Regions from separate parts of the Homo sapiens genome. Here region 2 is linked to region 1. Evidence: fine-mapped expression QTL. A gene starts in region 1. The other region holds a variant in brackets. All regions are shown on one strand. Distances are from middle to middle. Region 1 holds the start of ADGRA2 (adhesion G protein-coupled receptor A2). Region 2 has its middle 14 kb from the start of ZNF703.

Evidence for each region. PIP is the estimated chance that this variant, and not a neighbour inherited with it, causes the effect. A credible set is the group of variants that fine-mapping cannot tell apart.
Region 2: its variant is the best candidate, but not a certain one, in a credible set for the expression of ADGRA2 in whole blood (INTERVAL, PIP 0.89).

Annotation. Positions count from the first base shown.
Region 1 is chr8:37,793,574-37,798,942 of GRCh38, reverse strand. It overlaps ADGRA2 (adhesion G protein-coupled receptor A2), which reads right to left and starts at 2,060. Exons shown (of 19, transcript NM_032777.10): 1 at 1,409-2,060. The coding sequence starts at 1,674. RefSeq lists silencers at 1,446-1,535, 1,816-1,985, 1,996-2,235 and enhancers at 2,499-3,064, 3,065-3,630.
Region 2 is chr8:37,707,306-37,712,674 of GRCh38, reverse strand. No RefSeq gene overlaps it. Among named protein-coding and RNA genes, the nearest start is that of ZNF703, 14 kb to the right of the region's middle. The variant A/G (reference allele first, on the strand shown) is at 2,406.

The sequences.
Region 1 (5,369 bases):
CCTGAACAGCCACAGGTGCCTTCCCTGGCCACAGCCTTACCCTGAGCAGCAGGGAGGCGGCAGCGAGCAGACACACCGCCTCCACCCTTAAGGCACACACATGCACACACACACCCGGGCCGGGGAAAATGCAGGCCGGGCGGCCAGCGTCAGAGGCTGACCAGTTGTGTCCTGTCAGGAAGCGGGCAGCCTCTGAACTCACCCAACCAGAGGCGTTACTGTATTGTTCTGGACACAATCGAAAAGACTGGGCCAGCCCCGACTGCGGGCAAGGGGCGGTGGAGAAACGGTTGCCACTGGGGTCAGGAGGACAGGGAAAGGGAAGCGGCTCTTAGGCTGGATTTGGGACAGGAAAGGAAGCGGCGGCCGCGGGGGCCCGACCCTCAAATCCACGGCGTGCGTGGAGCTGCGAGCACGTGGTCGGCGCAGGAAATCTCTGCGGTGGGGAGGGGTCGCCAATGCTCGCGCGGCTGCTGGGACTTGCGACCCCCTTGTAGGAGGCTTGGGGTCGGGCTGCGGCGCTGCAGCGCTCGCTGCCAGCAAAGCAAAGGCGTACTGAGGCCCTGACTAAGAGGGAAGTCGCGGAAGGAGGCCCGGGTGGGCTGCGGTGAGGGAACCCCGCTTCCCCAGCCGCGTTTCTTTCTTCGCAATCTTTGCGCGAAGTCAATGGAGAAACAGCCAAAGCTCGAGTTACTTCCAGGAGAGGCAAAGGAGAGGCAAGGACGCGGGACCCAGCACAGAGCTCACTGCACAAACGGCGCCGTGGGAGAGGGGCCTCTAGAGGGATGGGGACGCCAGGGTCTCCTGCAGCCCAGGAGCGCCGGTATTCCAAGGGCCGACTTTTCTGAGCCCAGCCTCCCCTTGCCCTAAGGAGACCGGCTGGAAGCGGCGCTGGCAGGCCAGGGGGCAAGGATGGGATGACCCCAATTGAAGGGACAAGGCCAGCCAGGTAAATCCGGAGACTCCTCCAGCCCAGTCCGGGACGCGACCGTAGTGGTTAGGACCACAGCCCCCTCCTGGGCCACGAGCGTCGATCTTTCCTGAGCATTCCCCGCTCTCACCCTTCTCAGGTCCCCAAAGTCCGCAACCCTAGTCCAGGCTGGAAATCCGGGGCGTGGGTGCCCTGCAGGCGTGCTCTCCACTTCACCTGTGCAGGTGAGTGGGCGCCTGCGGTGCCTTTCTCTGGGGTGCGCCTGTCCCCCGCAGCCCCTTCCCGCCTCCACGCTCCTGGAGCCCCAGTCTCTCCCCTGCTCCTCCAATCTTCCCCTCTGGGGGCCTGAACCCAGGCCTGTCCAGAAATCTCTGAAGTGGGGGGATAGCCCCCTTCCCCCTGCTCCCACCCCTCCCGTCTCGCCTCCCTTCGTCCCCAGTCCCGGCTCGGACGGAACTGGCCTGGTAGGGTACTCACAGGGTAACGGTGCCGTTAGGCAGAAGGCCGGGCTCGGGAGGCTCCGGGAGGTCCCCGCCGCTGCACACCACCCTCCGCCGAGCCGGGCCAGGGACGCCGCCGCTCAGCCCCTTGGGCCGCTCCCCCGAGCACTTGCAGCTGCGGATGGATAGCGGGCAGCCGGGCGCGCCCCGAGCCTCGGGCGCCAGGAGCAGCAGGAGCCACGGCAGCAGCGGCAGCAGCAGGCGCGCGGGCGCCCCCCGCATCCTGCGTCCCCCGGCGCCCATCAACCCATCGCCCCGCGGGGACCCACAGCGCTGGGGCCGGGCTGCGCGCCGGCCGGAGGGACCCAGGCGTGCGGGAGGAGTGCTCAGCGGGGGCCCGGGGCTCCCGAGGGCGTGGAGGGGGGCCCTGGGCGGAGGCGAGCCCCGGGGTCCCCGCCGCCGCGCCCCGGGGGCATGTCCTGCGAGCGCCCCGGCGGGGAGGACGTCGGCGCGGCTGTCAGCGCAGCGCGGGCAGCTCCCAGCTGCGCGGCCGGAGTCTCAGCGCCCGGCCCTCGGGACACTGGAGGCCCGGCCCCTCCGCGTCGCCTGCTCGCTGGGCGCTGGGCTGGGACCTAGCGGATCGCGCCGGGCTCCTGCTGCCGCCGCCGCCGCCGCTCCGTGCCATGGATGGAGGCAGCTCCGCGCCGCGCCGCTCCCGCCGCCGGTCCCCGCCCGCCCGGGCCTTCCGCGGGGCCCTAGCGCCGACCGACACGCGGCCAGGCCTAGACCCTCTGCCGAGTGGGGGCGGGCCAGCTGGTTCGAGGACCCTGCGTCCCCGCGCCCGCCCTGCACCAACACTCCTCTCCCGCTTGTCCCCGCGCCCCGGGCCAGGACCCTTCCTTTCCGCAACCCATCTCAGACCTCTGAGCCGACCACCACCACCTTCCACAAAATTTCCCTCGTCCGTGCCGGTGCAGCTTGCGTCTCCAGGCTGCTGGGGCCCTCCTGGACCCGCGGGCTTGGACAGAGACGTCTGGGGCGCCCTGTTTTGGGTTGAACTTGGTGGAAGGCTCCGAGGTTTCCTTTGGCCCCTGACACGATGATCAGTCTGGAAGTCGGCTCTCACTCTCCTTCCAGCTCCGGTGGAGGCAGCCGCAGGAGGATGGCAGCCGAGACAAGGAGGCAGCAGACCCTCCTCCGCTGCGGTGACCTCGCTCAGCGGGGGGTGCATGTCATTCGGCCAAGGAGAGGTCAAAGGCCAAGGCAGACAAGGCTAGAGGCTAGACTGGGCCTCCTACATTTTCCACAACGCTGTGTGTGTGTGTGTGTGTGTGTGTGTGTGTGTTTCGGGGACAGTGAGTGGGACAAGGGAAAAGTAGATGAGAAGGAGCAGGGCTTTGCAGCAGGGTGTGGAAAGAGCACTGCGCAGTGAGTCTGGAGACCCCTATTCCAGACTCGGCTCTGCCTCTCATTACTGTCTGACCTTGGACACAGCCCCTAGCTTGCTGGGGTAGCAGATCTCTGGGGTTGAAATGGGGCTCTGCCTGCTCCCCAGTTTATAGAGTGGCATTAGATGCCCAGTAAATCGTGGCATTAGAATAAGAGAGTGTGGTGGGGGGGAGGGGCACATGGTTTCCAAAGGCAGAGGACTGGTGGTGGCAGGGGTGACCTTGACAACTAGTGGTGGGTATAAAGCTGCCTGCAGGCCGGGCGCGGTGGCTGACACCTGTAATCCCAGCACTTTTCGAGGCCGAGGCGGGCGGATCACTTGAGGTGAGGAGTTTGAGATCCACCTGGCCAAAATGATGAAACCCTGTCTGTACTAAATATACAAAAATTATCCGGGCGTCGTGGTGGGCGCCTGTAATCCCAGCTACTTGGGAGGCTGAGGCACGAGAATTGCTTGAACCCAGGAGGCGGAGGTTGCAGTGAGCTGAGAGCGTGCCACTGCACTGCAGCCTGGTGACAAAGTGAGACTCCGTCTCAATAAATAAATAAATTAATTAAAAAAAAAACAGCCTGCAGTACACCGGAACCAGGGCTGGGGACAGGCAGTAAGAAGTGCAGCCCAGGGGTCTGCTTCCTCTGTTTCCCCACAGAAGCTCACCTTTCTGTTGCTTAATAGAGCTGCCGGGATGGGGCAGGACTCCCGTTCCCCCTCCTTCACTCTACCACCCAAGCGGTCCCCAAGGTGAATGCCACATTCTTTAGTGAGCTTAGCCCTGCTGATGTGCGGTGGTGCCTTTTCTAGGGCCCCTGTGCCTGTCAGCCAAGTCTACCCTGACTATGCAGGGAATGGCTTTCTTCTCTTGCCCGTTGGCGTTGGCGGCAGGCAGGGGCCTAGATGTTGGCTTCTTCACTTTCCCTCCCTGGCTCCACAGATCTCCCCCAGTTGCAGGCTCTCTGGTTCCTTGAACTTCCAAAGATAAATAAATAGTGATTGCAAATGGAGGAAGGGAGAAGGGGAATGGACTCCCCCAGCAGGAGCCCTCACAGGCGGTGGCCCAGGCTGCATTCCTCAGGAAAGAGCTGACAGCAGAGCCACAGCCCATAGGCAGGGCTGTGCAGCCCTCCTGCTCACAGGCAAGGAAGACTCTGAGATCTCTGGCCTGGGTCATATAGCTTTTCTGTGATTTCCTTTGGCTAAATGAAGACACTCAAAGTCTAAAGAAGAATTCTACTGGAACACCCACTCCTGGAGGCTGAACAGAGGCCAAAGGACATTTAATGAGGCGAGGCTTCCCCACCACTAGGAATGAAATGTCTGATGGAGACATCTACAAAACACTGGACTGTCCTGAGGGTCACCACATTTGACTTCTTACCCACCCAGGGAGGTGATGAAGTGGAGGTTACTTTCTTATTTTGCAAGTATGGATGAAGAAACTGAGTCACTGAGACTAGAGTCCAAGGGTAGGAACTTACTTTCTGATTCCTTTTTTTGTGTATGTGTGAGACAAGGTCTCTCTCTGTCACCCAGGCTGGAGTGCAGTGGCAGGAACACGGCAGCCTCGATCTCCTGGGTTCAATCCTCCCACCTCCGCCTCCCAAGTAGCTGGAACTACAGGTTTGTTATTGCATGCAACTAATTTTTTTTAATGTTTTGTAGAGATGGGGATCTCGCCATGTTGCCCAGGCTGGTCTCAAACTCCTGGACTCCAGCAATCTGCCTGACTTGGCCTCCCAAAGTGCTGGGATTACAGGTGTGAGCCACCATGCCTGGCCATGAGCATGTTTGTCTGTTTGTTTGTTTGTTTGTTTGTGATGGAGTCTAGCTCTGTCACCCATGCTGGAGTGCAGTGGCACAATCTCAGCTCACTGCAACCTCTACCTCCTGGGTTCAAGTGATTCTCCTGTCACAGCCTCCCAAGTAGCTGGGATTACAGGCGCCTGCCACCATGCCTGGCTAATTTTTGTATTTTTAGGAGAGACAGGGTTTCACCATATTGGCCAGGCTGGTCTCAAACTCCTGACCTCAGGTGATCCACTCGCCTTGGCCTCCCAAAGTTCTGGGATTATAGGAGTGAGCCACCGCAACCTGCCATGAGCATGTTTTAATCCTTTTTTCTTCTTATTTCTAGTATACCGTGCCCGGCCATGGTTCCTTTTTAAGTGCTTTCTTCTCTGAGCCACAGGGAGACTTTCCCCTGGGAAGCTTCCTGCAGACCTCTCCTCAGAGGTGCAGTGAGGAGTGAATGAATTGCCCACATCAAAATCTTTTTGTTTTGAGGTTTGTTTGAGATAGGAGAATGACTCGAATTTAGTTCCAGACCTCAAAAAATCTGCTAGGGAGCCTGACCAATTAAACACACCTTGATCAGAGGTGATAAGCTCTTCAGTGGCGATCACAGAGACAAGACTGAATTAATTCCGACCAGAGCAAGGGAGAGGGGACTTTCCGAAAGAGTCTGTTTAATCTGGGCAAGAATATAATCTACCGGACTCTATGAGACCTTATTCCCCTAAGAGTCTAGGGGCTCATATCTGCCGTCTCCCTC
Region 2 (5,369 bases), 86 kb after region 1:
AGCTGTGGGCACCATTCTTTTCCCCAAGTATGAATGAGCTGCTGTCTGCTGGGAAGACAGGGAAACAGAAGGAGGTGGGGGAACAGAGTCTAGAGCAGGGGTGGTTTAAGGCACCAGCACAGAAGGAAAGTTAGCATTAAGAGTGCATGGGAGAGTTGGGCGTGGTGGCTCACACCTGTAATCCCAGCACTTTGGGAGGCTGAGGTAGGTGGATCACTTGAGTTCAAGACCAGCCTGGCCAACATGGTGAAATCCCGTCTCTACTAAAAATACAAAAATTAGCCAGGCATGGTGGCGCATGCCTGTAATCCCATAATCCCAGCTACTTGGGAGGCTGAGGCAGGAGAGTTGCCTGAACCTGGGAGGCAGAGGCTGCAGTGAGCCGAGATTGGGCCACTGCACTCCAGCCTGGGTGACAGAGCTAGACTCTGTCTCACAAAAAAAAAAAAAAAAAAGGTGCATGGGAGAACACCCTCATCTCCTTACCCCTCTTCAAAGTGCTCTCCCTGCTGAGTGGGCTTGAGGGGTGTAAATGAGAGTGGAAGGAGACACCGAAGTGGGCGTAGCTCTCAAGGCATGTGGGGACGAGGGAGGCTCTTCACCCTAATAGTGGCTCTCAACCCAGGCTGATACCACCGCCAAGGGCATCTGGATTATTCTGATGGTCCTCATGGTTGAGAGGCATTACAAGCAATTGGTATCTTGAGACTAAGGATGCTAAACCTTCTACCTTGCACAGAAGGGTCCTGCTCAGTAAAGAAGTGTCTTGCCCAAATATCAAGAGTGTCTCCTTTAATAAATACTGTGGGGTAAGTGAAAAGCAGGGACTTTGATGCTGGATCCCTTTGGGGCCTTAGACACTCCATGGTTTCTGTCCCTAGAGCTCCTGAGTTGCATGGAGAGAAAGCAGAGAGGCCCGTCCCTGACCATCAGGGCATGGGACGTAAGCTGAAGGAGAGCCTGGGTCACCATCCCCTTCTGTTTCTTCTCCACCCTCCCTCAGCGCCCCGCCACTCTGTACAGATTTCTGGCAGGCCTGGCTCACTCAGCCAGGCCTCACTCAGCCGTGATGCCTAACTTTTTCCATATGCAAAGGCTGCTCCCGCTTCAGAAACACGAGAGAGGGCCGCGGGAGATGCACAGCCAGAGGGACTGTGGTGGAGGTGAGGGGCGGCCTGGGGAATGGGAAAGGTTTTTTGGGGGGTGTCACCATGAGGGGAAGTGCTGGGGAAGTCCACGGCAACACGTTCTAGCCTGTTTGGAGGCCGGCTGTTGGCACCAGGAGAAATCCATCCTGCAGAGCCAACCCTCATTAATCATCCGGGCGGCTGAACTGCCAGCTCCTTTCAAGATCTTTCAAGAAGGGTTTTCACCCAAAATAGAGTTGAAAATGTGCTGGGCCCTACTCAGAATCTCATCAGTCTGGGCATTATGGGAAGTGTCAGGCGGACTGTGACAGACAAGGCCCACTCTGTTCAAGGGGTCCTGACTCCCACAGCCTGTCATATCAAGCGCCTGATCAAATTTGACAGCTTCATTTGTACCTACAGAATAGATAAAAGGGGCTGTTCATTGAAACAAATGGAGGGGAAGGGGTGGGGGAGGGAAAGGAGGTGAGAGTGAGAGGGAACGTGTGTGTGTGTGTGTGTGTGTGTGTGTGTGTGTTGGGGGAAGAATGGCACTGGGGAAGGGGCAGGAAGGGGAAGATTATGGTGAGGGGCAAGGGTTGCCAAGAAGGATTCTGTCTAAGATCATTTTCTTCTCCAATACTTTCAAAGAAGGGAGAGGGGTCGGGGGCGGCAGGTGAGTATCAAGAGGGGATGGGAGTGAAAGCCCTACCTGTCAGTGTGACCATCACGAGCCTCCTGAGACCTCCTCTCTGTGCTGTGTGCCCTGAAGCAGTCACAGAGCCAGGAGGGTGGGCCCTGGGGACAGGGGAGCCCACAGTGAGTGGCTGGGACTAGGGGAGTCAGCCCCGGCGAGCGTGACACAGGTTTCAATTGCAGGCCCCATGCTACCTGTGCAGAGAGCCTTACCTTTCTCTGTGGCAGGCTTTGAATTGTGCCCCTTCTCTGCAGTGAGGCTGTTGCCCCTTCTTTGGCCAGGTTGCTGGGTGGCTGCACCTCTGCGTGTGGCCCTGAAGACCTGAATTCCTTAAGTTATACTTAGTGTACCTTTGTGCTCTCCGCACACAGAAGCTGGTTTGTGTGAGTGGGAGAGGTGTCCCGCAACACAGCTTGCGCTGTCCCGCCTTGGGCCTGGCTCTGGCTGCCCCACTGGCCTCGAAGACCTCTCCTTTCTCCTCTGGGGCTGAGTGAATGATGATCCCTTCCAGCTCCGAGGATGCTCTAAATACCTTGTACTTTATGTGGGTCCCCTTCACTTGTGATCGTACTTTACTTTGC[A/G]TAACTAGTATGTGCTTGTATGGGTTTCCCTATTGATTGTAAACAGTTTGATGTCTGGGGCATGTCCTGTGCATCTTCCATCCTCCAATAGCATTTAGCACACATAATAGGTTCTTCAGAACTGCTTTTGATTGACAATTAGCATTCCACACACTGTAAGGCTCAACTGTGACCATCAGGAGGTGATCAGGGGATTGAAGGGCTCCTTTCTGATCTATGGTCTTTAGAAGAGAGGGCCAGAGGTTAGCAGGGCTCCCCCTATCCTACCCCCAGCCACGTGGCACCTTTGGAAGATTTAGAAGAAGGCCCCCTTCCAAGCTGATGCAGTCCCAGGTCTGGTGTCTGTGGAGCTCCCAGTTGTTCCCTTGGCCAGATGCTGTCCTGTGGGGCATTGCCTGCACAATAGTATGTGAAGGGTGGCCCTGGCCACAGGTAGACAGGTTTTTATAACCAGATAGCCTTGGTAGGAATCTTGCCTCTACTGCTTACTGGTTTTGTGGCCTTAGGCAAGATACATCCAACAATAGACTTGCTGCAGAGAATTGCTGCCAGGATTCAAGGAAAGCTTCTATGCAAAGTGCTCAGCACAGTGCCTGGCACACAGCAAGAGCTCAATAAATGTTAGAGAAAGAAAAAGGCTCATATCTGGTCTGCGATGCTCAGACTTCTTCATTTGAACTTACAGCAGCATTCTATTGACAGCTCTTGTTTGTCAGTGACCATGGATCATTATCACTTTGTATCAATCCTCTGCTTTTTGTAAGTTTCACAGATGCAAGCATTGTTAGAGTCCAATACACCAAAGATGCCTATCCTTCTCGTTAGGAGGGCTTGCCAATATGCTGCCTCCATGCTCAAATAGGTGATCCTCTGCAAGCCACCAGGTGGAGGTCTCAGTACTACAAAGTATGCAGAAGGTCACAAATTTCTATGAACTTCAGGGTCTCATAGGCCTGAGCCTTCTGTCCTAACCTTAGTGGAGACAGCCTAGTCTGGCTAGAGCAGTCCATCCCCAGATGCACCTGTGTTTCCTACAATTTCAGATGTAAGCTTTTAAGCTTTCTCCAGGTAGATAGGGCTCAGTGGGTTTGGAAGGGCTTCTGTTTGGTAAGGTCTGGGAAGCAGAGTGGAGGAGAGTAAAATGACCACAGACAGGGCAGTATCGAAGCTGCCGAGACAACAGCTGGGGTGGACTCACCTCCAGGCCTCCTTCTCCTCTGGCACCAGGGAGAAGCAATGTGCCACCCTTGCAGTTAGGAGGGGCCATGGGACCAGTGCTGGCCAGAAGATTGTGAGCAGAGGTGACATATTCATTTTTGGCCTGCAACATGTGATTGTTTGTGTGAGATGCTCCGGCTCTTCCTCTGTGTGTGTTCCTCTGCCAGTCAGTGGGCCTGATTAATTATGTGGCCCTGATTAATTATGTGGCACAGTTGATGCTTTCTGATGCATCGGTTTGGTTAGATTGAACTCCAGTCCCCAGTTACTAAATCAAACAAGAATCTAGGTGCTTCTGTGAAGGAATTTTGCAAATGTGATTGAAGTCCCTAATCAGTTGACTTTAAGTTGATCAAAAGAGAAGTGATCTAGGGTGGGCCTGACCTAATGAAGCAAGCCCTTTAAAAGGGGGCTTAGGCCTTCCTTGTTCTCAGAGACTCCACATGGCTCAAGCCAGCAGGGTGTCTTGTGATGCTGGCTTGTGATCTTCCCTTCCTGTCTGCCTGCCCTACAGACTTCCAACTCACTTAGCTAGCCATGATTGCGTAAGTGAACGCCTTGAAATAAATGACTCCATATATTACTGCTTCTGCTTCTCTGGTTGAACACTGACTGATAGAGATCCCCGTCAATTCACAATGGATACACAGTATAAGTGGAAAAAAAAAAGAGGACTTTGTTGTGTTAAGCCACTGAGATTTGTGTGTTAATTTGTTACCACCGTATAACCTAGCCTATACTCTTGATTACTGCAATGGCATTAATAGAGTCCTCAGCACATTATCTCTCTCTCTCTTTTTTTTTTTTGGAGACAGGGTCTTGCTCTGTTGCCCAGGCTGGAGTGTAGTGGCACAATCGTGGCAAACTACAGCCTTGACCTCCCCGGGCTCAGGTGATTCTCCCACCTCAGCTTCCTGAGTAGCTGGGACCACAGGCAAGCATCACCAGGCCTCTCTAATTTTTGTATTTTTTGTAGAAATGGGGTTTTGGCATGTTGTCCAGGCTGGTCTCGAACTCCTGGCCTCAAGTGATCCATCCACTTCAGTCTCCCAAAGTGTTGGGATTACAGGTGTGAGCCAATGTGCCTGGCCAGTGTGGGCTAAGATATAATGTGATATCTTAGTTTATACACCAATCTCCCATTTGACTGCAAACTCCTTGTGGCAAGGCCAGTATCTCCTCCATCTTTTGAATTCCCAGAGCAGACCAAAATACTTAGTAGGTAGTGGTCTGTAAATGTTTACTGAATGCTCAAACCCAATGCACTGACCAGCATCTCAGCTCTTGTTTGGGGCAGGACCAATTTCATTTGAATTGTACATAGTCAACTGGTCCCAACACACACAGGCACAGCCAGAACTTTCCAGGGAGCAGGCACCCTTATTCCATTTATCCATAGCATCTAGGCCTGCCAACATACAAAGTCTGAAGCTGCTTGGCTAAGTGTAAAGAGTTTTAGAGTCAGAACCATATTAGAATCCTGGCTTCATGCTCTTTAACTGTGAGATCTTGGGCAATTTTTTTTTTTTTTTCTGAGACAGAGTCTCACTCTGTCACCCAGGCTGGAGTGCAGTGGCGGCTCACTGCAACCTCTGCCTCCTTGGTTCAAGTGATTCTCCTGCCTCAGCCTCCTAAGTAGCTGGGATTACAGGTGTGTGCCACCATGCTCAGCTAATTTTTGTATTTTTTTGTAATTTTATATTGTAATTTTATATTTTTAGTAGAGACAGGGTTTCACCACATTGG